Linked DNA regions of Homo sapiens: region 2 is linked to region 1. Evidence: fine-mapped expression QTL. A gene starts in region 1. The other region holds a variant in brackets. All regions are shown on one strand. Distances are between the middles of the regions. Region 1 holds the start of JHY (junctional cadherin complex regulator). Region 2 overlaps JHY (junctional cadherin complex regulator).

Region 1 (15,787 bases):
GAGTCAGACTGCCTGAGTTTTCTGCTCCACCACTCACTAGATGCAATGAATGGGTATAATATAACTTTTAAAGCTTCATTTGCATCCTTCAAAATGGGATCATGATAGTATCTACCACGGTTGCAATAAAGATTAAATGAGATAATACATGTAAAGTGTTTAGCACAGAAATGGGCTCATGATAAGCATTCTATAAATGCTAGCTGTTGTTACAGGAACCCTAATCTTTGGCTTCTCTTGTTCCTTCAATCCTCATATCTAATCTGTCACCAAACCCTGTCAATTCTTTCATTTATATATATATATAATTTCAGTTAAAGTTTCGTTGGAAAAAAAAAAACAAGAAACTGGGGCCGGGAGTGGTGGTTCACGCCTGTAATCCTAGCACTTTGGGAGGCCGAGGTACACAGATTTCCTGAGCTCAGGAGTTCAAGGACAGCCTGGGCAATGTGGTAAGACCCCATCTCTACTAAAAGTAGAAAAAGTTAGCCGAGCATTGTGGCGCACGCTACTCGGGAGGCTGAAGCACGAGAATCATTTGAACCCGGGAGGCGCAGGTTGCAGTGAGCCAAGATCGTGCCACTTCACTCTAGCCTGGGCAACAGAGCAAGACTCTGTCTCCAAAACAAACAAACAAACTGGGAACATCCCAAAGTCCACCCTTGGGTGACTGAATAAATATATAATGGCACCTCCAGATACTAGAATACTATGTACCATGTACACATGTATTATGAACATATAAGTATAATCATCGCTCAGTTATCTGTGAGGGAGTGTTTCCAGGACTCCCTGCTGATACCAAAATCCAGGGATGGGAAAGTCCCTTTTATAAATTGGGGTAATATTTGTATATAGCCCTGCATGTCCTCCTATATATTTTAAATTATCTGTAGATTATTTATAATACCTAATACAATGTAAATACCATGTAAATAGTTGTTATATTGTTCTGGAATAAAGCCAAGAAAAAAAGTCTCTGTGCATGTTTAGTACAGATTCAACCATCCATTTATTCTCCAAATATTTTTGATCTATGTTTGGTTGGATCCACAGATGCGAAACCATGGATACGGAAAGCCAACTCTATCGAAGGATACCCAAGATACACATGGGTATTTTGTTAAATGAAAATAACCAGTTGCCAAAGAGGATGTCTAAATCCATCTCATTTGGTTAAAACCATGTAAAAAGATTCTCGAGCTCACAAGTTATCAGAGAAAAGTAATTTAAATCTATAATAGGACAGGATTTTATAACCCATCAGAGTGGCAAAAGTTAAAAAGACAGTAATTCTGAGGACTGGTAACTTGCAGGCACTTGTGAGTAAAGTTGAAGATGTCCAGTCGCCCATGAACCACAGTTCCACTCCTGGAGATTTATACCCTAAGGAAAGCCTTGCATGCATACCCAAGGAGGCACACGAGGACATGCACAGAGCATTGTCTGAAATAACGAAAACTGGAAAAAAACTAAATATTCATCAATATTCAACCAAGACCATGTCTTAGTTCAAAAGCATAATTGTAAAATCCCAAAAACATAATGTTGACTGAACAAAATGGGCATCATGCATCCATATATAGATATATATTTATTCACTAATTATAGATCACCTATGAAATAAATGAATGGAAGACTGGTGAGAAGGATGCACACTCACGTAAGAGTATGTATTGATTACCTCTAAGGGGGAAGAAAGGGGAATGAGTTTGAGAAGGGGGTACATGGAAACTTTATCTGTAATACACTATGAATTTTAAAAATAGGTCTGAAACAAATATGGCAGTAAGGGTTATACTGTATTTTTCTCTGTAATTTTCTATAGGTTAGAATTTTTGCATGATTAAAAAAAAAAACAGCATCAGTAACACAACAAGGACATCCTCCAAGCACTATAACCTTAGACGAGTTTCTTCATCTCTGTTAGCCTCATTTTCCTTATCTGTAAAATAGGAAAAGCAGCAACTTCCCTACAGGATTGTGATGGAGAATTGAGTGAAACTAAGATAGGCTTTTAAAAAGTGATGTCATTGTTACTGTCATATCCATCCAGCAGTCTCTTTGCCCATTGTGTGTTTAGTCTCTAATTCAAAATGCACTAGCTTGCATAATAATCTTCCTTAAACGCTGCTGCATCTCACTGCCCTCCCCAAGAACCTGTATTCTCTCTGCCTGGCTTTCCCAGCCTAGTCCTATCAAGGTTGTCTGTCTCTCTGAAGCTGTCCTGCAAGCCTCTTGCGCCTCTAGCACCTTGGTGACAACTCTTATCACTTTTACTGTGACATATCACTAAGACACTTATGAGATTGATTCAACTAGATAGCCCCAGTGAAAAAAAGGGGGGGAAGACGAAAGGAAGGAAGAAGAAAGATAAGAAAGAAAGAAAAGACTCAGGACCGGGCTCTACTTCTCGCTCCCACACGAGCCCTTGCAGTGACTGTATCCCAAGGACAAATCATTTGAGTTCTGTAAGACTCAATATCCTCATCTGTGGTAGGATGGTTACACTTCAAGACCTGAAAATGTATCTTCCAATACCATAAGCACATTTTTAAGGCCCCCTTATAATCAGACCCCTACTCAGTCTATTTTTGCTACACTCAAAACAAATCCTCTGCAATCCAGCTGGGCTCCCTAATGTGCCACAAACATGTCACTCCCATTCTCTTCTGTTATCCAGAACTTAGCTTGTTTTCAAGACCCTGTCCAAGTTCTAGGCCTTCCAATAAACTTTCCTTAATATATTTCAGCCTGAATTAAAAAAAAAAAAAATCGGCCGGGCACAGTGGCTCACGCCTGTAATCCCAACACTTTGGGAGTCCAAGGTGGGCGGATCACAAGATCAAGAGATCGAGACCATCCTGGCCAACATGGTGAAACCCCGTCTCTACTAAAAATGCAAAAATTAGCTGGGCGTGGTGGCACATGCCTGTAGTCCCAGCTACTCGGGAGGCTGAGGCAGGAGAATCACTTGAACCCGGGAGGTGGAGGTTGCAGTGAGCTGAGATTGCGCCACTGCACTCCAGCCTGATGACAGAGCGAGACTCCTCCCCCGTCCCACACACAAAAAAAACTAACACGATATAATTTATAAGGAGCCAGTCACTATTCTAAACAATTTATATGTATTTATTTTAGCCTCATAATAACTGGTTAACTATTATTATTATCCCATTTTTACTGATGAAGAAACTGAGGCACAGAAATATAATTGGACTTGGCCAAGGTTATACAGCTAGTAAGTGGCAGAGCCACTATCTGAACCCAAATGGTCTGCTTCAGACACCATGCACTTCACCACCACACTAAAACCTCCTCCTAATCAATAGCTTTTACCTTCTTCTGTACTCTCATATCCTCAGTGCCTCAATTGTAACAGAGTGATATCACACATTATTTCATATTCCCTTACTTTTTTTTGGTAGCTCATAGCACAAGGTTAAATCCCTTAAATTCTGGTTATTAGATTAAATCTTTATATGATCATACAAGCCCTGAGAGGTAGACCTCTACTAGCTTTGAATGGGCCAAGTAAGATTCTACCCCCAATTATTTGTACTTTATTGACATTCATAGCAATCCTGTGAGATAGGCAAGTCAGGTTATTTGACAGACGAGAAAAAGTGAGCCAAAAAAAGAATTAAGTGGGTCAGGCATGGTGGCTTATGCCTGTAATCATAGCACTTTGGGAGGCTGAAGTGGAAGGATTGCTTGAGGCTAGGAGTTCAAGACCAACCTGGCCAACATAATGAGCTCCCATCTCTATTGTAAATATTTAATACTACATAAAATTTTTAAAAAAATAAAAAAAAGAGTTAAGTGATTTATTCCAGATTATACACTAAACAGCAACGCCTGGACCAAATCAAGTCCACCTGACTCCACATCCTTTTCCATACCCGGCTTTCTGGAATTTCTCCCAGGTGAGGTCCTAGTGCGGAGACACTTGGAATATGGACAGGAAGTAAATGGTATGAGAAATGCGAATTGCCCTTATTAATACCCATTGCACTTTTTAATTAAAAAAAATCTGAATATGGAAAAAACATGGTGCCCAGCTATCCTTGGCTGCTTGGAGACCTGTCTCACACACGGCGCTCATTAGGGCAGCTTGCCCTTACTCTAATTTGGAATGACGACAGTAATTATCTAATGATACATTTTAGAGCCCATTATTATCTTACACAAGCCAATTCCTTACCTGTTATTGGCGCCCTGGTCCCAGGTATGGTGGTTTTGCTCGCGAGCCATCTGAGCTGCTTTTCCACTTGCTTCCTCTTCCATCTCGTGCAGGCTTCCCCATCGAGGGCTTTCCTCCTCGTCTAAGCTGTCGGGCTCCATACCGTTGCCCCGGATTCGATCATCAAACTCAGAATGGCACATAATCTCTTGCGTGAGGCTTTCTGAATCAGATTCCAAGGAGTCTTTTGAAATCCGATGTAAGTCTTCTTTCTTCAAAGGTGGGTGTGTGGACTGGACATTTAAGTTGGTATGAAGGACAGGAGATTGAATAGAGAGCTTGGGAATTAGTTTACGTTTACTCATCTTGAAAAATGCAAAAAATTAACAGGGGATACTCGTGTTGATAGGAGCAGCTGGCTGATATTTAAAGTTGTGGTTCACAAAAGCGTTACCTGAAAAAAAATATATTTATGTTACTCTGCGACCACTAAAATCTCAATACTGTCAACGTTAATCAAATATTTAAATGAGTAAGAGAACCTTGTTATATTATCTGCAGGCTTTTGTATGCACCCTTTTGTGTGTATAAGAAAGGTCTATTAGAAAAACAATTGTTTTTCTCTCTGCAGAAACACATCTGATGTAGCGCTCATAAGCAGCCTGAGTAATCGAATGCAGTTTTATTGATGAAATAAATGGCTGCTTGGAAGTGGATTCCTATTTCTAGCTTCCAAGGGCTTGTTACAGACAAGCCTGGACTAAGACAAATGGTTAATTATGGACAGTACTTTGATAGCCTTATTTCAAATGCCCAAATAACTATGGGCAATATAAATATGGTCCGTAGTTATTCATGGATAGAGTAAAACAGGTTCAGGGGCTATGTTTTGGAAAGTAAAGTAAGAAGAAAGAAGAGTGTAGTTTTCCATAGTTGGAACTGTAAATGGGGAAGCTGTTTTGTTCCTAGACCTATATGGGCTGGCAACATCATTTGGAAAAGACTTTCTGATAGCCAGGTTGTGACTAGATAGGAACATATAATTTAGGTGGACATAAATGGAGATCAACCTCATCCGGTATTTTTTAAAACCCATAATAACGATTAAAACTGTTCAACAATCACGCCTGTAATACCAGCACTTTGGGAGGCCAAGGTGGGCAGATCGCTTAAGTCCAGGAGTTCAAGACCACCCCGGGCAACATGGCAAAACCCCATCTCTACAAAAAAAAAAAAAAAATACAAAAAATTAGTGGGCATGGTGGGATGGGCCTGTAGTCCCAGCTACTCGGGAGACTGCGGTGGGAGGAGGGTCACTCGAGCCGGGCAGGCAGAGGCTGCAGTGAGCTGGAGTGCCACTGCACTCCAGCCTGGGTAACAGAACGTGACCCTATCAGAAAAAATAAATAAAACTGTTCAACAAAAGATTTAGTGGTCTTGTGAATTCTGCCACTGAGCGATCCAAAGCAGAGCCTGGAGGTCTACATTACCGAACGGGATGCTATCCTGGGGAAAGTTGAGTGGGTGGGAGATTGGCCTGAATTACAGCTAAGAGTTAGCTGGAGTCCCTTCCAACTCACTTACGAGTGTGATTCAAGTGAACCTGCACTGTCTGTAAGGGTCATTATAAAGAGCCATGGAAAGGGTGCTTTGAGTTCATGTAGGACCGAACGGACATGATGTTTTTGGATTGTGCTTCCTTTCATCTCTACCTAGCATTTCTATTTTGGTCTATTTTCTATCTCACTGCCTTTATACCCATTTTTTTTTTTTCTGTGAGTCAGGTAACAGAAACCTTTACCATTAGAAATTGCTGTAAAATTTGTCTTAATGGCTTGCTCTTGTTCTTTTGGCAAATCCTAACTTTAATTAAATGACACAACCTTATTACTATTCCTAGGATTGCTTATAATGTTGACCTTGTTGCTAATGTTTGCAAGGAGCATCATCAAATCCTTGGAGGAAAGCACCTTAACAAACAACAGGCAAAAGGGAACGTTCATATGTAAATACACACGAAGTGAGTTTTCTATTGAACTCGAAGTCTGCCCTGTTGGTAGACTAACATATTATTCTCTAATATTACAGACTGGTTTGTTGTATTATTTTGTCTCTTATTTTTAAAATACATATTGCATTCTGCCTTATTATTTTAATTGTTGCTTTTTTAGGATGTGCCAAGAAAGCAGCAAATCTATCAAATACTAACACATTTTAAGTAAAAGAGATTGTTTAACACCGGTTTTACTGGAGGAGCTAAGGTCACTGAATTTGAGATCCTGAAGAGCAAGCTTAAGCGTTATAGTGCAACTTAGAATTACTCTTAAAATAATTCAGTCCCTTGAACTTCTCTTCTTAAATGAAATAGGCTAAGCTTTCTTGGAATGAATAAAAAATAAAACAGTAACCACAGAAGATAATTTTGCTGATGTTAGCAGATTCCTGAAGTTTGCTAAAGTATGCAAAGAGCAAAGCCAAACGCCACAAAAGCTGGGTTTTCTGTGGAGGCCTGATCTTACCAAAACATGGGGTGGAAGAAGGAACAGCTGACAGCTTGAATAAGTTAGAAAGTGGGCGTTTAAATTTCATGAATGTGGCTCCCTCCTCCCGTCCAGTGAAAAAAAAAAAAGGTTGTGCCGCTGAAATTTCTGACCAAGAGAGGTGACTAGTCTCCTGAATAAACAAGACAGCGATAGATCCGATGGCACCTAGGGACTAAGAAGCGGCCAGCTCCCCAGGGATCCCTGCAGTGGGTCTAGTCCACTAGCATGGGACAATCGAACTTTCTCCTGGAGGGGAAAAGGAACCCTGCTTGGGCTCACCAAGATGAATCGTAAAGAAAAAGGAACGAACCCTGGTTTGAAACAGGCCGGAAGCTGCCCAGGGGAGGCGTTCGGTTTTCTACCTTTGCTTGTTCCTGAGGAACAAGGCCTGTCACAAGGGGCGTTTGGAGGTCCAGGAAGTGACAAGTCGGCGGGCCTGGTGCCCGGGACCGGTCCTAATTGACCGGGAACAGGGCTGCTCTGGGTGCCCGGGCGCCGAAGCCTCGCATGGCGGCCCCCCAGCCCCTTGTCGCGGCCTCGCCCCCTTGTCGCTCCCCACTCCGTCCCGAAGGCTCCCGCGCCGGCTCCTCCCCAGCTTGCTTGGGTGGTTTCCTGCCGTCCCCATCCCCAGTAAGCCCTTCCCGTTTCCCTCCCCGGGCGCGCCGCCCACCCCAGATCCGGGAGGCCACCGCCCGTCACCTGCCCGGCGCTCCTCCGCGGCCGCGACCCGGACGGGCCCCGCATCCTCCCGCGCCGCCGCCGCCGCCGCCCGGGCCCCCGCCCGCCCCGGCGCTGCCCTGGAGACCGCAGACAACACAGACGCCGGCGCCACATGGGCGGGGCAGGACCCGACCTAGGATCCCGCGTCCCGAACCGCACCCCCGGCCCTGGCACGGAGGCTGCAAACGGCCGTAATAACGACATCGGGGCAGAGCCGGAGGAGCCCGAACGCCCCGGGAGAGGCTGCCTCGCCGCCCGGACTTCCCAGCGCCGGAGGGCAGAGGCCACCCGGGGGAGGAGATCTTTGCCACAAATAAAACTACTAAAATACGCGAGGAACTGCTACAAATCAAGAAGAAAAGGAACCCAATTAAATAATGGGTAAATGGAAAGGTATTTCACAAACACACGAGAAATCTAAATGGCCAATAAATATCTGTTTATTGAAATGATGCTTTAATTCATTAATAATCAGAAGAAGGCCAATTAAAACCACAGCGGATAATACCACACTCACCATAAGTTGAGTCGAAAAGTCCAAAGTTGAAACGTCTGGCAGCGTCAGGTGCTAGGGAGGACGTAGTGCAAAGAACCGTCACCTTCTGCGGGCGGACGTGAGAACCGATGCAACCAACCATTTTGGAAAATGGTTTGACATTAGCCAGGATATGTATGCCTTGGGATCCAGCAATTTCACTTTTAGGTATTTACCCTAAGAAGTGCGTGCTCCTGTGCATGCAAACTGGAAATAACTGAACTATCCATCAAAAGAATGGTTAATTAGATTATGCTATTGCCTATACTGGCATACTACATAGCACTGTAAATGAATGAAATACAACTATGTGTAACAATATGGAGGCATACTAAAAACACAATTTTGAACAACAACAAAAACCCAGAAAAAGTACATACTGTATGATTTTTGTATATAAAAAACAGGCTAAATTACACTCTACAGTGATTGTGGCTCCATACTTAGTGGAGGAAACTATGAAAAAAAGCAAAAAAGCAATTTTATGGGAAACACTACCCACTTAGTGATTCCCATCAAGTTAGGATTGTGGTCGGTTCTGGCAGGTAGGGAGAAGAATGTTTTTGAGACTGTATTTCCTGACCTTAATGATGGTTATATAGATGTTCATCTTGTAAAAATTCATTAAGCTGTACATTTATGTATGGGTAGAATATTTCACTATCAAAAAAGGTTTCAAAAAAGAATAAAGAAAGGAAGCATTAGGAATTATCTTCACATTAAAACAACAAGTAGATTTGAATAACTACCTTCAAAGATTGGTTTGAGGCCAGGTGCAGTGGCTCACCCTGTAATCCCAGCATTTTGGGAAACCGAGCTGGAGGATTGCTTGAGCCCAAGAGTTCAAGACCAGCCTGGGGAAAATGGCAAAACCTTGTCTCTACGAAAATTTTTAACAATTAGTTGAGCGTAGTGGCGCGTGCCTATAGTCCGAGCTACTTGGAAGGCTGAGGTGGGAGGATCACCTGAGCCCAGGAGGTTGAGGCTGAAGTCAGCCAATATTGTGCCACTGCACTCCAGCCTGGGTGAGAGTGAGACCTTGTCAAAAAAAAAAAAAAAAAAAAAAGAGAATTCTTCGGCCAGGCACAGTGGCTCATGCCTGTAATCCCAGCACTTTCGGAGGCCTAGGCGAGTGGATCACCTGAGGTCAGGAGTTCAAGACCAGCCTGGCCAACATGGCAAAACCCCGTCTCTACTAAAAATACAAAAATCAGCTGGGCGTGGTGGTGCACGCCTGTAGTCCCAGCTACATGGGAGGCTGAGGCAGGAGAACTGCTTGAACCGGGGAGGCAGAGGTTGCAGTGAGCTGAGATGTGCCACTGCAATCCAGCCTGGGTGACAGAGCGAGACTCCATCTCAAAAAAATAAAATAAAATAAAAAAAGAATGCTTCAATACCAGTTGCCTCATTAATGATAGGAAACACAGGAAATTGGAAAATGTCTTTACTACCCAGCTTTAGCACTTTTTATTCTGTTTTTTATTTGAGTTAGTTTTTTTTTTTTTTTTTTTTTTTTTACTTTTTTGGCAGCAGGGACCTTGTCTTATGAGTACACAGTAGGACCTCAATGTCTGTAGAAGAAATAAAAGCAACGTAGCTGAAACCATTAGTGTTATTCTGCCCAGTATATTATACAAGGTATTATTATAGCAACTGCAAACATGCAAGCAAATTTCAAGCAAAAGGATTTAGTCCTAATAGTGGCTTCCAGAATATGTTATAGAATCAATGCTGAGTCATTCACACTTGTCTACTTTTGATGCTGTGGTTCTTTAGACTCTTCCAGTGTTTTCTGCACTATCCAGAAGAGATTTTAACTGGCTTTTCTGAAAATTAGTGGTCCCTACGTGATTCAGGAGTCTGTCAATCCAGCAGCTACTTGCAGAGACTAGTCACACATAGAGCGTGGGACACTCTGGGCTTGATCTTCCTCCTTCTCCCCTTGTAATGGCTGTCCTGAGTATCTGGAGTGACTAAAGGGTGGAATAATCAACACGAGTGGTAGTCAGGGTCAGTGAGAAGACAGAAACCATGCCAGTTAGTATAATGGAAATAATTTAATATGAAGATTTATTAACTGAAAAGTTGAAAAGGGAACACAAGTGTCATAGAGGTAGTAAGTACAGGAAGCAGCTTCCACCTCTGTGGCTGGGGAATCACAGGAAAGAATTATTCACACTTAGAAGTATTAACACTGAAATTATTAACACTCAGAGCTGGGACCCAGGCCTCTCAGGAGGGTGAAATCCCAAGCTAGTGGGTGCTGGTGTCTTTGAAAAGGAATCATGAAGCTGGTTCTGAGAGTGCTGGGAAAACTGGAATCAGCTACTGCTGCTGAAACCAACTGAGCTGCTGGAGTGAAGAGACGTTGTCAAGGTGACCTCGAGAGGAAAAGGAAGGAGCAGTCCCTTTTCCAGTCTCCAGGCTTGGGGTCTCCCTCTACTGTCCCCTCCTGGCAGAGTAATACAAGGAGCCGGCTGGCAAAGAAAAATGAGGTTTGTAGGGGTTGCCCCAGCATCACGACCAGAGTATATGAGTGAAGCTGAGAGACAATGGTTTAATAAGCAGCACACTAATGCTCTGCTTTTCAGAATTCTTAAGGATTACAGAGTGCATGCAAACAAAATAAAACCATAAAGTGCATTGTTTTCATCTGCTGTTATGGTAATAACATTGATAATTTACATATGAATAGCACTTCACAGGGTCTGCAAAGTGCTTTTGCATATATTATCTTTTAGAATTCAGCTGTCAACCTGACCCTGAACTAACCAAAATACGCAGAATAGGAAAAACAAGTCAAAAAGCGCTTAAATACATGGGTTAGTAATACTGAACTGAGTTTACTCCTTTTCCACCCCATGCCACCCATTCATGCAACTCCCTTCTTTCTGTTTCCCTCTCCTACACATCACTCATGCTCTGTTCGTGAGGTCCTTCCTCTGCTCCATTTCCTTTTTGGTCTTACCCCTCCTGAGTCCACCAGACCTATGTCTAGCTCAGCAGCGTCTCCTCTAGCAGGAATTTTGTGGCAGTTCCCCCACATTGTCTGATGCTTCTTGGACCAGGGTGCTTCTCAAGCTGGAGCAGTTTTATCCTTCACGGAGAGTTGACAACATCTGGAGGCATTTTTTTGTTGTTATGACTTAAGGGAGTACTACTGGCGTCTAATGGACAGAGGCCAGAGATGCTGCTAAACATCCTAAAATGCACAGGACAGTCCCCCCACCCCCCTGCCAAAATTATGTGGTCCAAAATGTCAATAATGCCGAGGTTGACAAACTCTGTGCTAGGCTAATGGCCCTTGGTCTGTGGTCTCAAGGCACCCAACTGCATGCCTCTAGCTTTATACATATGCTTGTACAACACTGCATTGAAATTACATGTTTATATTTATGTCACCTCCTTACTAAACTATGAGCTCCCAGAGAACCAGAGAACAAGGACAAACGTAGTGAATGGCACCTAATAAATCCTCAGTAAATGTTGAAAAAAAGCCACAATATCCTTAGACTTTAGCACATGATTGGGGAGTAGATAAGTAGTCAGTCCCTTTAATAGAACTGGTGAGAGTGGCCAGTCAAACCTTGTAACAAGGATATACTCATATTTGGCATATAACTAGGTTGATCAGATAATTTATTAAAATCCAGGATAGCCAGGTGTGGTGGTACATGCCCTATAGGTCCAGCTACTCAGGAGGCTGAGACAGGAGGATCATTTGAGCCCGAGATTTCAAGGCTGCAGTGAGCTATGATTGCATCACTGCACTGCGGTGTGGGCAACAGAGTGAGATCCCACCACTAAAAAAAAGAAAAAGAAAGAAAAAGCCAACTAGGATACATTCAAGAATTTTTTTTAAGGATGCTATTTATTAATTACACTGGGACAATAGGTATACACTGAAATTGTCCTGGGTAGCCAGGCAGTGTAGTCATTCTACATATAACTGTAATATGTTTAATTGTCTGGTTTCTTCACACGTAGGGTAAATCAGAAAGGGTCAAGGAGGGCACTCTCAGGGCAGAAAGAAGGGGCAGTACCAGCAAGAGAAGTGACCAAAATATCACAAAAGCAAGAGATGTTCAAACAAACAAAGCAACCTGGGTTCATTTGGTGTAAGGAACAAACAGCCTTATTCCTGAATATCCTGTGTGAGAATCACACTATTATGGCAAGTGCCAAGATTAATTTTCATAATGATTAACTTCTTGAAACTCATATAGGGTAAGTCAGCTTCATAAATATTGACTAGAAAGGTAAAAGTCATGTAACTTATTTTACAAAGACTTTTGTCCAAAATATTAAAACATTTAACATCTCAAAGAGATAAACCTCAACTATCCAAAAGAAAAGTATTTACTTAGAAAGAGTCAGCCCTGAGAATTTTAGAGGACTGAAATGGTATAAATATATGTTTAAACAGAAAATGAAACTCAACAGACAGAAATACGAGTAACTTTGACACCCTTCTAGAAGAACGAGCCACGTGCTGGGGAAGCCCAGAGGAAGAGAATTCAGCCTGGCCGGGATCAACTTTGGGAAATAGATGATCTGGAAGGATGGCTCTTAGGAATGCAAATGAACAGATTATTATTATTATTATTATTATTTTTGAGACAGAGTCTTGCTCTGTTGCCCAGGCTGGAGTGCAGTGGCGCAATCTCAGCTCACTGCAAGCTCTGCCTCCCGGGTTCATGCCATTCTCCTGCCTCAGCCTCCCGAGTAGCTGGGACTACAGGCGCCCGCCACCACGCCTGGCTAACTTTTTGTATTTTTTTTAGTAGAGACGGGGTTTCACTGTGTTAGCCAGGTTGGTCTTGATCTCCTGACCTCGTGATCCGCCTGCCTTGGCCTCCCAAAGTGCTGGGATTACAGGCATAAGCCACCATGCCTGGCCTGAACAGATGATTAATGACAGGCTTTTTTCTCCTTTTTTGTGTCCTTGGTTTTCTTTCTTAAAAATAATTTTGAAACATTTCATCATGAAAATTTGAAACCATATTCAACAGTAGAGAGAAAAGTATAATGAATGGGCACATTGTTCTCACCCATCTTTAACAAAGATCAGTATGTGGCCAACCTTGTTTCCATACATACTGTGCTCCTCCCAGACTAAATTATTTAGAAGCAAATGTCAGCTATCACATGGTTTAATCTGTAAGTACTTAAGATGTGTCCCCAAGAGATCATTTGTAAATAACCATGACACCACGATCACATCTAAAACAAAATTAGTAATAACTTCTTAATATCGTCTAATCCTCAGTGTTCAGACTTCCCAGACTGTCTCCTACGTGTCTTTATAATTGGTTGGTTTAAATCAGGACCCAAACAAGTTCTACAAAGTGATTTTTAAAAGCTAACAGCTTGGCTGGGTGCAGTGGCTCACACCTGTAACCCCAGCACTTTGGGAGGCCAAGGTGGGCAGATCACTTGAGTCCAGGAGTTCGGGACCAGCCTGGCCAACATGGTGAAACCCTGTCTCTCCTAAAAATACAAAAATTAGCTGGGCATGGTGGCGCGTGCCTGTAATCGTAGCTATTTGGGAGGCTGAGACAGGAGAATCTCCTGAACCCTGGGAGGAGGTGGTTGCAGTGAGCCGAGACTGTGCCACTGCACTCCAGCCTGGGTGACAGAGTGAGTAAAACTCAGTCTCAAAATAAAGTAACAGCTTTATTGAGGTATAATTCACATACCTCACAATTCATCCTCTTAAAATGCACAATTGAGTAATTTTTAAAATATTCAGAGTGGCACAATCATCACGACCAGCTAATTCCAGACTGTCTCCCCAAAGGAAGCCCCATATCCATTAGCAGTCACCCCTCATTTCCCACTTCCCTCAGCCCTTGCCAGCCACTTATCTCTTTTCTGTCTCTTTGGATTGGTGTATTCTGAACATTTCATATAAATGGCTTCATACAATATGTGTTTTGTGAGTGTGTGTCTGGCTTTTCTCACTTAGCATAATGTTTTCAAAGTTCATGTTACAGCATGTATCAGTACTCCATTTCTTTTTATTACCAAATAATATTTCACTTTTTTTTTCTGTTTTGAGATGGAGTTTTGCTCTTGTTGCCCAGGGTGGAATGCAATGGTGTGATCTAGGCTCACCACAACCTCCGCCTCCTGGGTTCAACTGATTCTCCTGCCTCAGCCTCCCGAGTAGCTGGGATTACAGGCATGTGCCACCACGCCCGGCTAATTTTGTATTTCATATTTTTAGTAGAGACGGGGTTTCTCCATGTTGGTCTGGCTGGTCTCCAACTCCTGACCTCAGCTGATCCGCCCACCTTGGCCTCCCAAAGTGCTGGGATTATAGGCATGAGCCACTGCGCCCAGCCTCACTTTATGAATATACCACAACTTATTTACCCATTCATCATTTGATGGCCATTTGGGTTGTTTTCACCTTTGACCATTATAAATAATATTGCTATTAGTATTCCTGTACAAGGTTTTTTTTTTTTTTTGAGACAGGGTCTCATTGTCAGCTTGAGTGCAGTGGCACTATTATTTACCCATTCGTCATTTGATGGTAATTTGGGCTGTTTTCACTATTGACTATTATAAATAATATTGCTATTAATATTCCTGTAAAAGGTTTTTTTGTTTTGTTTTGTTTTTTGTTTTTTTTTTTTCGAGACAGGGTCTCATTGTCAGCTTGAAGGCAGTGGCACCATCGTGGCTCACTGCAATCTTGACCTCTGGGGCTCAAGTGATCCTCCCACCTCAGCCTCCCAAGTAACTGGGACAATAGGCGAGGGCCACCATGCCCCACTAATTCCTTCTTGTAATCTTTTGTAGAGACGGGGTTTTGCCACATTGCCCAGGCTGGTCTCAAACTCCTGAGCTCAAGCGATCTGCCCACTTTGGCCTCCCAAAGTGCTGGGATTACAGGCATGAACCACCGCACCTGGCCAATATTACTGTACAAGTTTTTGTGTGGAGATATATATATATATATATATATTTTTTTTTTTTTTTTCAGACAGAGTCTCGCTCTATTGCCCAGGCTGGAGTGCAGTGGCACGATCTTGGCTCACTGCAACCTCCGGCTCCCGGGTTCAAGCAATTCTCCTGCCTCAGCCTCCTGAGTAGCTGGGCTTGCAGGCTCACACTACCACACCCAACTAATTTTTGTATTTTTAGTAGAGATGGAGTTTCACTATGAGCCACCACGCCCCGCCTGTGTGGACATATTTTTCAATTCTCTTGGGTATATTCTTTCTAGGAGTAGAACTGCTGAAGCATATGGTAACCCTATGTGTAACTTTTTGAGTAACGCAAGGCTGTTTTCCAATGTGGCTGAGCTATTTTACATTCTCACCAGTCATGTCTGAGGGCTCTCATTTCTCTATAACCTTTCCAAAATTTGTTATTTTCTCTTTTTTATTATAGCCATTTTTATAGGTGTGAAGCGGCATCATATTCCAGTTTCGATTTGCGTTTCCCATCTTTTCTTGTGCTCATGGCTGTTTTTATTACATAGTTATTTTAATGATATATTTCAAATTTCAGTTTAAAAACTAGTGTCTGAGCAATCTCTAAAGCTGATCAGTACATTTTTAAAGTATTGTAAAAACTCATGAGTTTTAATGTATTTAACATGTTTCAATCACTACTCTTTATTTATTTATTCATTTATTTTTATTTTATTTATTTATTTTTTTTTGAGACAGGGTCTCGCTCTGTCACCAGGCTGGAGTGCAGTGGCGCGATCTCAGCTCACTGCAACCTCCCTCTTCCGGGTTCAAGCGATTCTCCTGCCTCAGCTTCCTGAGTAGCTGGGACTACAGGTGC
Region 2 (15,787 bases), 52 kb before region 1:
ATCACCAGAGGTCAGGAGTTCGAGACCAGCCTAACCAACATGGCGAAACGCTGTCTCTACTAAAAATATAAAAATTAGCTGGGCATGGTGTCACGTGCCTGTAATCCTAGCTACTTGGGAAGCTGAGACAGGAGAATCACTTGAACCTGGGAGGCAGAGGTTGCAATGAGCCGAAATTGTGCCACCACACTCCAGCCTGGGTGACAGAGCAAGACTCTGTCTAAAAATAAATAAATAAATAAATAAACTAAAACAAACAACAAAAAGGGAATTTCTATTTCTTGTCATGGTCCTTACCAAACAGGAGGCACACACAGTGACCTGCAGTCACACATCCTACAAGCAGCTGGTTACCATGTAATGTTTTACATATTCAAAAAATAAAATAAAATTTAAAATCAATGAGAAGAAAAGAAAATCCTAACACTGAATACAAAGCAAAACAAATGAATTTAACTGTATGTTAAACTGATTACCTCTACCAAGAGAAAAGAATTAATTTATGAAGTAATTTTGAGTCAATGTAGTTTGGTTGTACACCCTTAGAAGAATATAGAGGGAGGAAAAAGAATGGCAAAGAAATCATGAGCTTTACTTAGACTGACTGTTTGGTAGTGGTACTGGCATTGTAATTATAAAACTATTTGTACATATACTGTAGGGAAGGGTAAATGTGTAAACATATTGATGTTTTGGTAAACTAAGGTTTTCACTGTTGGAAAAAGGAGATACAAATATGGAAAAGGAGAAGCATGAGGAAGAACCCAGAGCTGTTGGATTTGAGGTATCTGTGTGACCCCACTAGTATACAGAAATATGTATTGGCATAGGCATAATTATAGAAAGAGGTTCAGGTACAGGTATTTTCTAGCTCTAACTGCTGAGATCTTGAGTCTAGAAGCAATAACATTTCAGTAGCAATGAGAACACATAGCTCTCAAATCTTGGTTTCTAAATTCCATTCCCTACTAAAAAGAATTAGGGTTTTTTGGAGAAACTGATGCTTCCACATGAGTTCAGGGGAAGTCCAAAGGTAAACCTAGAACATATTACTATGCCAGAAAACAAAGAAGTGCTCGAAGACAAAAGATGTTACATCAAAAGGACCCAGGAACTGGAGTGAAGGGGCTCCCACTGCTCAAATCCAAGACAGTGAGAACATATACAGTATAATGATGGTAATAGACTTTAACATGTTTATAGGAAAAGATTTATGAGTCCATAATGATACTAGAGAGAGAGGGAGAGAGAGAGAGAGAGATAAAGAAGGAAGGAAGGAAGGAAGGAAGGAGAAAAAGGAAGAGGAAAAGGTCTTATTTCAACAGCCATGTAATAAATGTATAGGTATTGATAGAATTACAAAATCACCATTTTGCAACCCCAGTGTAATGGATGATTTAGGTAAGCACTGTCAGTGGATGCTAAAACCACTGTACAAAAAGCTGTTGAAAACTAGGATAATTACACTGTCTCGAATATTAATAATTACTTATAAAGGGAAAATGTTCCTTTACAATGGGGAGATCTGGTAGTCGCTACCTTAATCAAAAGGTTTAACTTAGCATCACCAATAATATGATAGCCTGATAGTATGTATCCCCTGGTATAATGTAATAAAAAGTACACCAAATCACCCAAGTAGTATTCTTGCCTGAAATGGTCAACCTAAATATAACTATCCAAAAACAATAAATTTTTTCTAAAAAGGCAATGTTATAGAAAACAATGAAAAGTGAGCATTGGATAATTTGTTCTAGATTTTTTTTTCTTTTTTTGAGACAGAACCTCACTCTGTTGCCCAGGCTGGAGTGCAGTGGCAGGATCTCAGCTCACTGCAACCTCTGCCTCCCAGGCTGAAGAGATTCTCCTGCCTCAGCCTCCCGAGTAGCTGGGACTACAGGAGCCTGCCACCACACCCAGCAAATTTTTGTATTTTTAGTAGAGTGGGAGTTTCACCATGTTGGCCAGGCTGGTCTCGAACTCCTGACCTCAAGTGATCCACCGCCTTGGCCTCCCAAAGTGCTGGGATTACAGGTGTGAGCCACCATGCCCAGTCTGTTCTAGATTTTTTTTTTTTTAATTAAAGGGACAAAAAGTAAATGAAATGTATGAACACTGAATACTGGATCAGGAATTTAAAAAAAAAAAAGCTGTAAAAGGCTTTTTGGAGACAAGTAATACAATTTAAAAATGTACTGATACTACATGATATTGTGTACAATAACGTTAATATTCTTAGCTGTGATAATGGTGTGATTGTTGTATAAGACAATGTCCTTATTCTTAGGGGCTGAATGTTGAAATATTTAGAGATAAAATATTGTGATTCTGAACTTGCTTTCAAATGATTCAGTAAATAGATAGAAAATGTTGCAAAATTTTAGCACTGATGAATCTAGATGAAGGACTACAGGTGTTTATTGTAGATATTTTCCCCCAAGTTTTTACTAGGTGTGAACAATTTCAAAATGAAAAGGTGGTAGAAAAAACGTGGCAGAATAAGCATGCAATTTAACTCTCAAATGCAAATCAAAATTATATATAAAGAGATTTTTAAAAGACATCAACCCACGAAGATAAAGAGAACAAAATGGGGGGAAAAGAGCAAATATTTCGGAAGCAGAGAACAGATGGTTGAATGGTAACTATCTTAGCAGACTCAAAAAAGTGGAATCTAAGTTAGCAGCAGGGAAAGCAGAGAAGCCACAGTTTACACCATAGAATCCTGTAAGGCTCATGAGCTGTAAGTGGGAGTGGCGGTGGTGAAAGTCTATGTGAGAGTTACTTAAAAAAGATTTGGTTGAAAGTCTGTTTAAGAAGCAGTCAGGGTTGGGTGCGGTGGCTCACGCCTGTAATCCCAGCACTTTGGGAGGCCGAGGTGGGTGGATCACGGGGTCAGGAGATCGAGACCATCCTGGCCAACATGGTGAAACCCTGTCTCTACCAAAAATCCAAAAACTAGCCAGGCGTGGTGATGGGCGTCTGTAGTCCCAGCTGCTCAGGAGGCTGAGGCAGGAGAATCGCTTGAACCCGGTAGGCAGAGGTTGCAGTGAGCTGAGATCGTGCCACTGCACTCCAGCCTGGCAACAGAGTGAGACTCCGTCTCCGGAAAAAAAAAAAAAAAAAGAAGAAGCAGGCGGATCTCCAGATCATCTTCTCCATTTTGTGCACCTAGGCAACTGTCCCTTCCCTCTCTCCGCAGCTCGCTGGAGGTTTTCATTCTGAAGAAGCCAACAAGTCTTCTGCCTGTGAAGCACCAAGCACAGATAATAAATCTGACCACCAAGAGAAAAGACCTAAAACCTACAGGAAGGGCTTCCTATCACATGGCACCCAAAGATCATTCTATAGGCACTCAAAGTCAACAAGCACTGTCACTCAGAGCTTCCAATAAGCTTTCTAGTCCCTCATACTTGATCATGAGAAGATGATCAAGAATTGCTAGACATCTGACACAAGCCCTAAGGTGGAAGGCAGCAAAATAGGAGAAGAGAAACAAACATCACTGACAAAGACCTAGAGGAAAGAGAAGCAAAGCAGGGAATTAAAAACACTTAAAAATTCAGTCACAAGGGCCCTTACACCCTATTTTGCCTTGTTGAAAATCTAAGAAGACGTTGAGAAAAAAGGATGTTGTATCCATGAACAAAAACATGAGGCTATAAAACGAGGAGCATTCAGAAACCAATAACAGAAACAACAACAAAAAAATCCTGTCGGAAATTAACAAACATGATAGCAGTAGAAAGGCTGGAAGCTAGGACTGAGAAACCCTCCCAGACAGTAGAACAAAATTAGAAAGAAATGGAGAAAGAAAGAGAAAACAAAATCATAATAACGGTCCTGGAAAAACGCATCTGAATCACAGGAGTTTCTAGAAAGAGCAAACAGAAAATGGTTGAAAGGAACTACCCATAAAGATGACTCAAGAAATTTTCCCAGAACTGAAGGTCATATGTTTTCAGGTTTAAAGGCCCCAGCTCAATCTATGAAAACAGACCTATACAAAGGCGCAATATTATGAAATTTCACTTCAGTAGAGAAAAAGAAAAGATCCTAAAGCTTCCAGAAAACAAAAAACAAAAAACAACAACAAAAAAAACAGATTATATACAAAGGATCAGGAATAAGGTGGCTTCAGATTTCTCAACAGCAACACTGGATGCAAGAAGGCAATTCTGAGGGACAATGATTTTCCATCTAGAATTCTACAATCCTCTGCCAAGCTACCAATCAGGGGCGAGGGCAGAAGAAAGATAATTTCAGCAAGATCTCAAAACATTTACCTCTCAAGCAATGGAGGATGTTCTCTATCAAAATTAGAGACGAAACTAAGAAAGAGAACGGGGATGGAAAAAACGGGAAGGGTGACGAAGGAGAAGAGTGAAGAGGGTCTCCATGAGGGCATGGAGATTCTTAAGGATAATATGAGCACAACAACAGCGGAACGCAGTCAGAAAACAGGTGTGGCACAGGACACTGGCACGCTGAGAACTGCCCATCACCCTGTCCCCTGTCCTTGTACCACATTTTCAATCTGAAAGAAATGCCGGAAGGGGTGCTCAAACAAAATAAGGAAAATGTGAGATACTGAAAAAGAGAATCCTATCAGAAGAAAGGCAAAGGGAATCCTCAGCCAGGACAGCTGTGAAGCAAGTCTCGAAAGAGAAAGAAAGTAAAGGTGTCTACAAAGTCTGGCTCCAAGAAAGAGAGAAGAATTGAGAAATTGCCCGATGGGGTTGTCCTTATGGAAACTTATACTAAAAGGCTACTCATAAGCGTAGGATCAATTAGCTATATGTACAGAGAGAATTAAGCAAAAGAAGCCCAGGAGGTTGAGGCTGCCAAAAAAATTAAAAAAAAAAAAAAAGAAATGAAAAGAGGGACATGATTATAGATATAATAAAGGTGGAATAATATTAAAGTTATTTAAATACTACAAAAAGCTTTATGACAGTACATTTTAAGACAGCATAAAAGGAAAATTTTTCCTAGAAAAATATAATGTATTAAACTGACTAAAATGAAAATGAAAAGACTGCAAAGTCTTATAATGATTATAGTAAATGCATCAGGAGTTTAAAATCTGCTCACAAACAACAACAAAAAGCCAAACAAAACCCACCAATGGCCCAATAGTTTTAGAGGAAAATTCTATCAAACCTTCAAGTAACAGGTAAGGCCAATTGTATATAAAGTGTCCCAGAGGATGCAAAAAGAGGAAATAGTCCTCAACTCATTTTATAAGGCTGGTATTTTCTTGATAATCCACCCAGTCAAGGCCAGTGGCAGATAGGAAAATTATAAGCCAATTTCACTTCATGTATATGAAAATGTTAAATCTTAAACAAAGTGTTAACACATCAAATCAAGCAACTTATTAAAAATGCAGTATGACAAATTGGGTTAACCCTAGGAATAAAAGGGTTATCAGAAAAATCAGTGCATCATCAGAAAAATCTGTTAACATATTTCATCACACTAAAGGATTAATGGAGAAATGTTTCAATTAATGCAGAAAAAGTATTTGATAAAATCAAATACTCGTTTATGATAGAAGTTATTTGCAAAGAGGAATAGGAGGAAATTTCCCATCTATCATCTATCTATCTACCAAAAACTAAATATTATTTTTAATGGTAAAAGTGTCAGAAACAATCTTTCTAAAATCAGGAAAAAAAAAAAAGACAAAGATGCCTGCTATTTATCATTATCTCTTCTAGGAAGCTAACTTTAAATCTTATTAAATCTACATTCCATATCACCAAGTGTGACACTTAAATGTTCTTTGATCAACTCACGAGGGAGTAATTGTCTCCCTACTTTGAAAGTCAAGTTCCTTGAAGGTGCCTCACACACCATACTTCTTTTGTACCTTGTATAGCATTTAGCACTGTAGCATTATATTCAGTATGTTAGGTATGTAGAAAGGACGTTTGATCGAAGAACACCAAGAAATGGTGCCTGAAGTAATTTTTAAAATAACTTTCATTTTCCTGTTTATAGAAGTTATACATCTACATCGTGGGGAACTTGAACTGTTCTGAAAATATAAAGAATAAATTTTTAAAATCCCAATCCCTCTTGCTAGAGATAACCACTATTGACATTTTGGTAAATTTTTCTTCTGTGCATATTTTAACACAGTAGAACTCATACTCCTTAGATGTACTTTTTCTTCTACCAGTGTCATTCAACCCAAGGTGTAATTTTGTACCTTACTATTTTCTTCCTATAGAAGCATTTCCTCATAACCATAATTTTTAGTGGTTCCATGATACTAAATATCATAATTTACCTAAACATTCCCTATTGTTGGATTTTTAGGTCACCTCTATAAATGATGATTTTTTTGTATGTGCATATTTTTCTGTATTTTAGATTATTTTCTCAGGATAGGCCATGATAATGTTGAAGATCATTTGTTTCCTCCAAACATTACTTGCAACCCCCAAACACACTGATGTTTTTTGACTGGGTCCCTCTGTCCTCCTCTCCCTTCAACTTCTAGTTTAACTACAGTGGAAAAATAGCGGAGACAGGGAAGAGGAAAAGAAATCCATCAAAAGTAGACTCTTGGCCGGGTGCGGTGGCTCACACCTGTAATCTCAGCACTTTGGGAGGCCAAGGCGGGTGGATTACTTGAGGTCAGGAGTTCGAGACCAGCCTGGCCAACATGCTGAAACTCTGTCTCTACTAAAAATACAAAAATTAGCCCGGTGTGGTGGTGAACGCTTGTAATCCCTGCTACTTGGGAGGCTGGGCCAGGAGAATTGCTTGA[G/A]CTCGGGAGGCGGAGGTTGCAATGAGCCAAGATGGCACCACTGCACTCCAGCCTGGGCAACAGAGCAAGAATCTGTCTAAAAAAAAAAAAAGTGGACTCTTTGAGGCAGGAATCAGAGCTAAGGAAGTTGTTAGGTGAACTCTTCTTCTCACCTAGCCACCTTATGGATTCCCCTTCCCCTTCTTCCTCTCCCGTCTTTCTGCAGCAGTCTCTCCTTTCTCCTCTAGAAAACCACTTGAGAAAAGGGAATTCTTACCATAACATTTCTAAGTTCCTGTATTTTGTCTCTGTATAAGGCTGTTTGAGTTGTTTCTTATTTTTGGTTGATCCATGAGTATTTATGTGATAAACAAACTGAGAGCCTTTCTGGCTCAGGAGCACGTGTCTCTTAGAAAGTTCATTAAGGTTGTTCAAATCCATGTCAGAAAGGGTGTGTAGCTGCTGATATGAAAATCTTTTCTCTTCTTGGTCTTTGTGTCCTCTTTCTTTATTAACATTCAGCCCAGAGTCACATCCAGTAGAGTTTTTAGATAAGACCTTGTCAAAAGCCTGTTTTGGTGGAGCAAATGTATTGGAGGTTTCTTTGAGATTGTGGCTTCTAAGTGCCCTTGAGGCTTGTACATCATTGTTAGAGGCATGCATAATCACAATCGATTCAGGCTTTGTTGAAGTATCAAGAGGCTTATTTTGGTTTTGTTGCTGCCTGGGAGGGTTATTCTGGTTCCCCTGACTGGCAGTCACCTCTTCCGTTGTGGAAGACTTCAGGCCATTCTGGTGTTTACACTGCTTTCGAATCTTGAGCTTGGCTGGTCTTCTGGAAGGTTGATGGTCATTCACCATGTCAGAAGGTTGCCCTCTTGGTACATTGCTTGATTTTGTACTTTCATATTGAGACCAGTGTTCCTGGTAATTCTAAAGAGATATTTTTGGTTAATGTAAAATTAGAAGACTGGCACTCTTCACAAATTTTATTTTATTATTTATTTATTTATTTATTTATTTATTTATTTATTTATTTGAGACGGAGTCTCACTGTCTCCCAGGCTGGAGTGCAGTGGCACGATCTGGGCTCACTGCAAGCTCCGCCTCCCAGGTTCACACCATTCTCCTGCCTCAGCCCACAAATTTTAAATTAGTGTTTTCCAAATTGGGGGTTGAGACTTCTAGGAAGGTGACCATAGAACTGAAAGCAGATAAAGAAAAAGTAGACGATTTTTTTCCTAATTTCAGGGAATTGGAGTTAATAACTGAGTGATTCCTCCTGGAAATTTAGGATTATAAGCCTAGAAAGAAATAGAAAGCTTAGAATGGGCTTTATATTAAGGACAAGTCTTTGGCTTCAAAGTTTAAGTTTTAAAAGTTAAGTCTTTGACTTAAAAGTGTTGCCAACTTGGGGGATGAGGTGGGGAAGCTTTACTTCGAGAGATACGGAGAAAGTACAAATGCAAATCTACATTACAATATACAAGCTTATTTTAAGTAACATGAATATTTTTAAAAATCTTAACCAGAAAACACTAATAATTTGCTTTACAAACCAAGTACAAATCTAATATTAAATACAATTGAGATGATCAGATCTTTTTACTCATGCTGGTCAGAAGCTAGAAATGACCTCTTCACCAGATGAAACAAATTAGATTTTATTCAGAGGATTATAAAAGAGCCTGTGCTGTGATAGGACATCTGTGAAGCCACAAGGGCTGTTTTGCTTCTGTTCCTTAATATAGCCTGCGCTTAGGCAATCAAACATCTGGGGGAAATATTTCAATTTCACAACAGTCTTTATGCTTTTCAAAGTCTCCTAACAACAAAATGTACTCCTGGTATAATAGATACACTATGTAACTATATTGTGCTATTGCCATTTAGAAATATTTTCCAAGGAATAAAGCACTCATTACTTCGTGGAAAACTAGCTGAGTTAAGAGGCCTTTGCAAAGAATGATTAAATGCTTATTGAAAACAGTAGGATGACCATATGCATCAGTGTGTTATATAACTGCAACATATTTCTTCCTTTCTGAACACATATACTAAAAAATCTCTTTAGCTTTTATCTATAAAACATTAACTGAAAAATGCAACAGTTGGATGAATGATTATTTTAGCTTGCTAGAAGGAATGATCAAATTACTGTGATGAGTTCAGCTTTGATTTCTCTTTTCTGATACATTCTGATACAACCACTAAGACTCATCCTATTCCTGTATAATATTAAGCAGTGTTCTATTTCTAGTGAAATCACATTATAATGATAATGTTGAGATTATTAAATTTAAAACAGTAATACACAATGTTACTTATCATATCATATTTTTAAGAAATAACGACTTCTAATTTGAAATTTAGAAGCTGTTCTTTTGAGAATTTGAGCTTTCTGGGGGATTGGCCAGGCTCTGATTAGCTCCTACTTACTTTAAATTTTTACCTGTGGTGCTCCCAAAAAAGGGAAAACTTCTCTTCTGTATTCCAGGTAAATTCTAGGTATTCCTTCCATGCAGTAAATTGAGCTGCATGGGGAAATGCGGGCAGGAAGGCTCTGCAAATACATAGCTCCAAGAAAATCCTTTCTTGTAATGGATCCAGAAAATAATTGCTATATTACAATATTATAGGTGTGGTTGTGGAATATAGCAGCTCTTTTTATGGCTGGCAGCACTATTCGTGAAGGTCAAAAATGCCCCCCTTGACTGTGACCTAAAAGTATTAATTGATGCTGATAATGTCATTCTTTTCAATATTTTGTTCAGCCTTTAACTCGCTAGAGAAGTAACCAGGATGCTGCCATCTAAATGTACTTTTCCTAGTTTTCTCTCTTAATTTTCACCAAAAAAGAAAATACTTACTTCTCAGAAATTTCTTGGGTACTAGATGTGAAATCCTGGGTTACCACTTGATCTTAATCATGTTATTACCTTTGCTGCTGACAATCCTGTTCACAGGGCGCTCTGACAACAAGGCCAAGGACTCATCATTTTATGAAACTTCAATTGTCTCAAGTGTTAAATCTGCTATTCACATACATATAAGTGCCCAGAGATGGCATTTCAGTCCCCAGAAAGGAAGCCATTTATGGGCTTGATACGATTTTTCTCACCTTCCAAGCAGCCTACTTGAGATCTGTGGTTTACTGAAGATTTATTACCCTACAATTGGGGCATCAGGTGTCACTCTTTAGGTGGCAAGACCTGAGTTCCCTGAAGTTAATATACAAAGCCATTCTCAGACGATTTAATCTCCATCAGCACTGAAATCCTCTATTCCATTCTGCTCTCACTGGGGTTCTTTTGTTACCAACACCCGCAGTCGCTGCATACTCCATGCACTTAGAATAACTGCTTAATGGCAGTAGGTTTTTGCGTCACACACGGAGTGTTAGCATGGGGGAATCCTGATGCCTAATGCTGGGATGATAATTTCTTGGTGGGACTCATCCTTAGTTATTAATTAATGCTCGTTCATACTGTGCCACCCAAGAGAAGTTTGTCCCCGACCCTGTGAAAGCCAGCACCTTGTTGTTTCTCTTTTACGGCTTTCCTTTTCACATTTCATCAGCAGACGGGACAATGCCTGCTCTGATCTCAACCAGAAAGTTCATCTGTTTCAACACAAAAGCCACTCCTGCTCTTAGTTAACCTGACTCAACCGTGGAGTCCTGAGAGTTGTGCCTGGGCTCTGAGATCAGCTGTAAAGTGAAGACATGTCTGTTGTGTTCTGCTTTTCTGCTGTGTTTATGAACAATAAAACATGAGTACTTTAAGCCCGAGATACAAATTCCATCTGATAATATTAAGAGAATCTCAAGCAAAAATATTAATTGGCTCTGATTTTCTCTGTGGGTAAGGAAGAACTCTGTGTTCAGATGAATAGAAGAAGCATAGATCTATTGATAGTGTTGGAGGCAAAACCAAATTAACAGCTTTTTGGAAAGGTTAATCAGGATTTGATTACAAGGGCTTTCATATTAATAAGTAAAAGGTCCTATATATCTTTAATACTATCATTACCTTTTCTTTGCCTGGAAAGCTAAGAGTTATTTTAGAGGGGTAAGAAAGAAAACATCCTATTTATCCTTTTGAAACATTACTTAATTGGGGAACTTTTAATTTTTTTCTACTGGCATGTTTCTTGCCTGGTGCCATGGTTTGAATGTTTGTGTCTTCCCTAAACTCGTACGTTAAATCCTAACCCCCAAGGTAATGCTATTTAAAGGTGGGGTCTTTTCGGGTGACTAGGTCAGCAGGACGGAGCCCTCCTTCTTGGGATTGATGTCCCTATAAAATAGGCTCAAGGAAGCTCATTCCCCCCCTCCATTGTGTGAGGACACAGTGAGAAAGCATCACCAATGAACCAGGAAGCAGATCCTCACCAGACATAGAAACTGCCAGTGTCCTGACCTTGGACTTCCAGCTTCCAAAGCTGTGAAAAAAATAAACCTCTGTTGTTTCTAAGCCACCTGATCTATAGTATTTTGTTATAGCAGCACAAACAGACTAAGATACCTGGAAAAGATCTTCTGCCAGTGGGAATGTGCCCCTCACACTGCCCAGCAAGAGTCCTGAGCCTTAAACATACTGCATTCAGTCTGGGCACACAACCTAAGCAGGATTTGGAAAACCTGTGAAGATTCACAGGCAAGTGCGAAGCGATTCAGGACGCTAAGGCCTATGTAGCAAGGTTAAATGAAGAGAGATGACTTGGCTTCAAGTGATGGATCTGGGCATGGATAAGACTCTTACATAGAATATGATGATGACCATCATTCTCAGTATTTTTAAAGTAAAAATACATAGGCTGAAATGGTCTCAGGCATATCTTCTCTCTTTTCTCGCCCTTTCTCTGGTTTCTCGTTCTTTCTAGCATGTAAATGTATTTAAGTCTCTCCTATGAAAAGAAGGAAAAAAACATTCACTTGAATACATCCTCTGGTTAAATCCTATCTCTTTCTTGGCTGGGCACAGTGGCTCATGCCTGTAATCCCAGCACTTTGGGAGGTAGAGGCGGGTGGATCACTTGAGGTCAGGAGTTGAGACCAGCTTGACAAACATGGTGAAACCCTGTCTCTACTAAAAATACAAAAATTAGCTGGGCGTGCTGGCCTGCACCTGTAATCCCAGCTACTCGGGATGCTGAGGCAGGAGAATCGCTTGCACCTGGGAGGCAGAGGTTGCAGTGAGCCAAAATCACGATACTGTACTCCATCCTGGGTGATAGAGCAAGACCCTTTCTCAAAAAACAAAAGCAAAGAAAAATCTATCTCTTTCTCAGTTCACAGCTGGGCGTCTTGATGGTGTAGACTGCACTGGTCTCTGCTCCCCATCTCTCATGCTGACCTCTGTCCCCTGCCATAGAGCGTTCCTTCTCCCCATCCCGCTGAAATTGCTCTGTTCAGGCCACCAATAAACTTTTAGTCACCAAATCCTGTGGGCACTTTTTTCTTGACCTTTTTATTTTCAAGTTATTTCAAACTTACAGAAAAATTGCTAGTATGGACAACTCTAAAGGATTCTTATCCAGATTGAACAATTTTAAACATTTGGTCACATTTCATCATTTTCTCTGTCACTCCACACATAAACAAACAAATATACATCTATCTACATATATGTAATTATTATTGTTTGTATTTTTGGTATTTAGTCTTTTCAAGTCATGGAGCCTTCCATATACATGAGTTGCATGTGTAATGTCCCTTGCACGGCACCTCACTGCTGGGTACCTGCTTAGATTGCGAACAATCTCTTCTCCAGTCTGAGTCCTGGGATGCGTGAGGCAGACAGCAGCCCTTACCAACTATGTCAACTTTTCCCTCCCTAGACCATACAAATAGCAGCCAGAGCTGTCATGGTTCCTCGTTCCTCCTCCCACTTTCACACCTTTGCCCGGATTTGTCCTTCTAGGGGCAGCTGAGATACTGACTCCTATGGGGGTTATTTCTCCGTCTTCTTAGGGCAGAATTAGTTGCTCTTTTAGTTCCACTGCATTTTGTACCCAGGTCCATATTACTGCATTATAATGATTACATAATGATTCCCACTAAAGTGTTGAACTCCTAGAGGGGAGGTACTGCTTTAAAAAAAAAAAAAAACAAAAAACAACCTTGGCCAGGCGTGGTGGCTCACACCTGTAATCCCAGCACTTTGGGAGGCCAAGGCAGGCAGATCACCTGAGGTCAGGAGTTCGAGGCCAGCCTGACCAACATGAAGAAACCCCATCTCTACTGAAAATACAAAATTAGCGAGGCGTGGTGGCACATGCCTGTAATCCCAGCTACTTGGGAGGCTTGAACCTGGTAGGCAGAGGTTGTGGTAAGCCGAGATTGTGCCATTGCACTCCAGCCTGGGTAACGAGAGTGAAACTCAGCCTTAAAAAGAAAAAATGGGCCAGGCGTGTTGGCTCACGCCTGTAATCCTGGCACTTTGGGAGGCCGAGGCGGGCGGATCACGAGGTCAGGAGATCAAGACCATCCTGGCTAACACGGTGAAACCCCGTCTCTACTAAAAATACAAAAAATTAGCCGGGCGTGGTGGCGGGTGCCTATAGTCCCAGCTACTCAGGAAGCTGAGGCAGGAGAATGGCTTGAACCCGGGAGACGGAGCTTGCAGTGAGCCGAGATTGTGCCACTGCACTCCAGCCTGGGCAACAGAGTGAGACTCGGTCTCAAAAACAACAACAACAAAAAACCAACAACTACAAAAAACAACCTTTCTTCAAGTTTTATTTATTGTTTTAAAGAATTTTTGTTGTTGTTTGTTTGCTTGTTTTTTTTTTTTTTCCCCGTATCTTTTGGGCCAGGCACCTAATCCACAGTGCCTGGAATGCAGTAGATACTCAATAAATATTTGTTGTGTGAAATATTTTGATTTTGCACAAAGATATTTCACATTAGTGAAGGTTATTGTTGTTAGGGTAGGTTTATGAAACTCTGAAAGTCATTTTTCAAGAAAAAATTTTCAAATGAGGTCCATTTTCTCCTGGAGATACACTAAATAATCTTTTTATCTGCATTTTGTATTTTTTAGAGACAGGGTCTTGCTCTATTGCCCAGGCTGGAGTACAGTGGCACCTGTAACATCGAATTCCTGGCCTCTAGCAGTCCTCCCTCCTTGGCCTCCAAAAAAGCAATAGGATTATAGGCATGAGCCACTGTGCCTGGCCCATGATCTTTAAATGTTTCTTTAATCAGTCAGTAAATATTTACTGAGCATCAGCCTTGGGCAAAGCACTGTGGTAGGGGATGTAGAGAAAAATACAATCGGTACCTTAAAAGATCTTGTAGTGTAGTGGGTACAAAAGAAACACAGGCACAGTGGCTCACGCCTGTAATCCTAGCACTTTGGGAGGCCCAGGCGGGCAGATCACCTGAGGTCAGGAGTTCGAGACCAGCCTGGCCAACATGGTGAAACCCCATCTCTACTAAAAATACAAAAATTAGCTGGGCGTGGTGGTGGGTGCCTGTAATCCCAGCTACTCAGGAGGCTGAGACAGGAGAATCGCTTGAACCCAGGAGGCGGAGGTTACAGTGAGCCAAGATCCTACCATTGCACTCCAGCCTAGGCAACAAGAACAAAACTCCGTCTCAAAAAAAAAAAAAAGAAAAAAGAAAAGAAAAGAAAAAGAAACACAGGCAGCAGTTAATGAGACACGGCCCAATATGGCAGGCCCTGAGCCAGTGGCCCAGACTACAGACACAGCAGGAGCTGAGGGCAGAGGAGCAGGGTGGGAGAGGCTGGGAATCTCCATGCAGAGGTGGCCCTTGAGGAGGCACTAAAAAGAAGGCATTGGACTTGGGTAGTTGAAGAGGAAAAAGAAAGGCAGCCTAAAGTGTCTGTGTCCCAGAGTGCTGGGCTGGTGTGTAGCATGCAGTGGGCAGTCCACAAATCCTTTCCACCTAAAGAATGGGAAACATCCCTTAGGCCATTTGTGGTTATTGTCATTTTAGGTCAATAACACTTTTTAGATGTTTTGCTCCACAATTTCTTCATTCAGGAATGGGTTATAAGAGCATTAATTACAGTACACGCAGGGAATAAAAAGCATTCTTTTGGTTTTCTTCTGATTTTCTTCCATACAAAAGTTTTACTGCTTCTGTCAAAGGTCATGCCATAAATCAAGCACTGCGATTTTACCTTGATTATTATCATTTTTTCTTCAGTCTCCATAGAGACTATCCAAAATTGCCAATGCCGACTATATTTCAAGTCATCATGGTGGGTATTAGGAAAAGTTTTCAGTTAGCAATAATTGCACCCTGTATAAACCTCACTGGTTATGATGTTGCCACTGGGCAAAGCTTTTTACCTCGATCATTTTATCATTAGCTGAGAATCCTATGGCTTTCCTTAGTGACAATTATGAAAGCTACAGGTTGCGATAATCTTACATGCTTCAAATGTATTTTTCTATAATAATTTAAATAACTAGAAATGCATGGTCATAGAATTCTAGCATTTTGCAGCTGAGATGGACCTTGAAGGTCATTTAGACTAATCCTTCATTTAATAAAGAAGAAATTTAAGGTTTTGAAAAAGCTGAGATTTGCCCAGTCATGAATCAAGTAAATGGCAGGCTGAGGCCCAGAAATTCATCTCTCGTGACCCAGTCCATTACCCATAATGCATGGCAAATCTTAAGGTATTTCCTTTGTCCCTGGTTCCTGTTGACCAAGCTCCCCTGGCTCTCTATCACATCTGGTAGTGGATCCTGTCCTCCACATCCCACAGCCATGAGACATTTCAGTCGCCATCCTCTCAACTTCTAGGTATGGCCTCACTGGCATCAACTTTCAGGAAGCTCTGGGTGAATGACTTTTTATTTCTTTTTTTGCAACTCTTAAGAGAGGCCTGGAGTCCACTGGAGAGGAAAAGAGATGATTCGGGCTGTCCCTTCTTTCTAACCTCTCTGAAGCTCAGGTAAAACTCATTATTATTTTTACTATGTTTATCACTGTATATAGTTTTAACTGATGTCAACAGGCTCTATAGGTTCAGTAATTTTCAAAGG

The links. PIP is the estimated chance that this variant, and not a neighbour inherited with it, causes the effect.
Region 2: its variant is the best candidate, but not a certain one, in a credible set for the expression of JHY in tibial nerve (GTEx, PIP 0.66).

What each region holds. Positions count from the first base shown.
Region 1 is chr11:122,874,611-122,890,397 of GRCh38, reverse strand. It overlaps JHY (junctional cadherin complex regulator), which reads right to left and starts at 7,639. Exons shown (of 9, transcript NM_024806.4): 1 at 7,426-7,639; 2 at 4,205-4,637. The coding sequence starts at 4,548. RefSeq lists a silencer at 7,161-7,520.
Region 2 is chr11:122,926,326-122,942,112 of GRCh38, reverse strand. JHY (junctional cadherin complex regulator) reads right to left here. Exons shown (of 9, transcript NM_024806.4): 5 at 7,038-7,693. It also overlaps the pseudogene RNU4-23P. Among named protein-coding and RNA genes, the nearest start is that of BSX, 48 kb to the left of the region's middle. The variant G/A (reference allele first, on the strand shown) is at 6,782.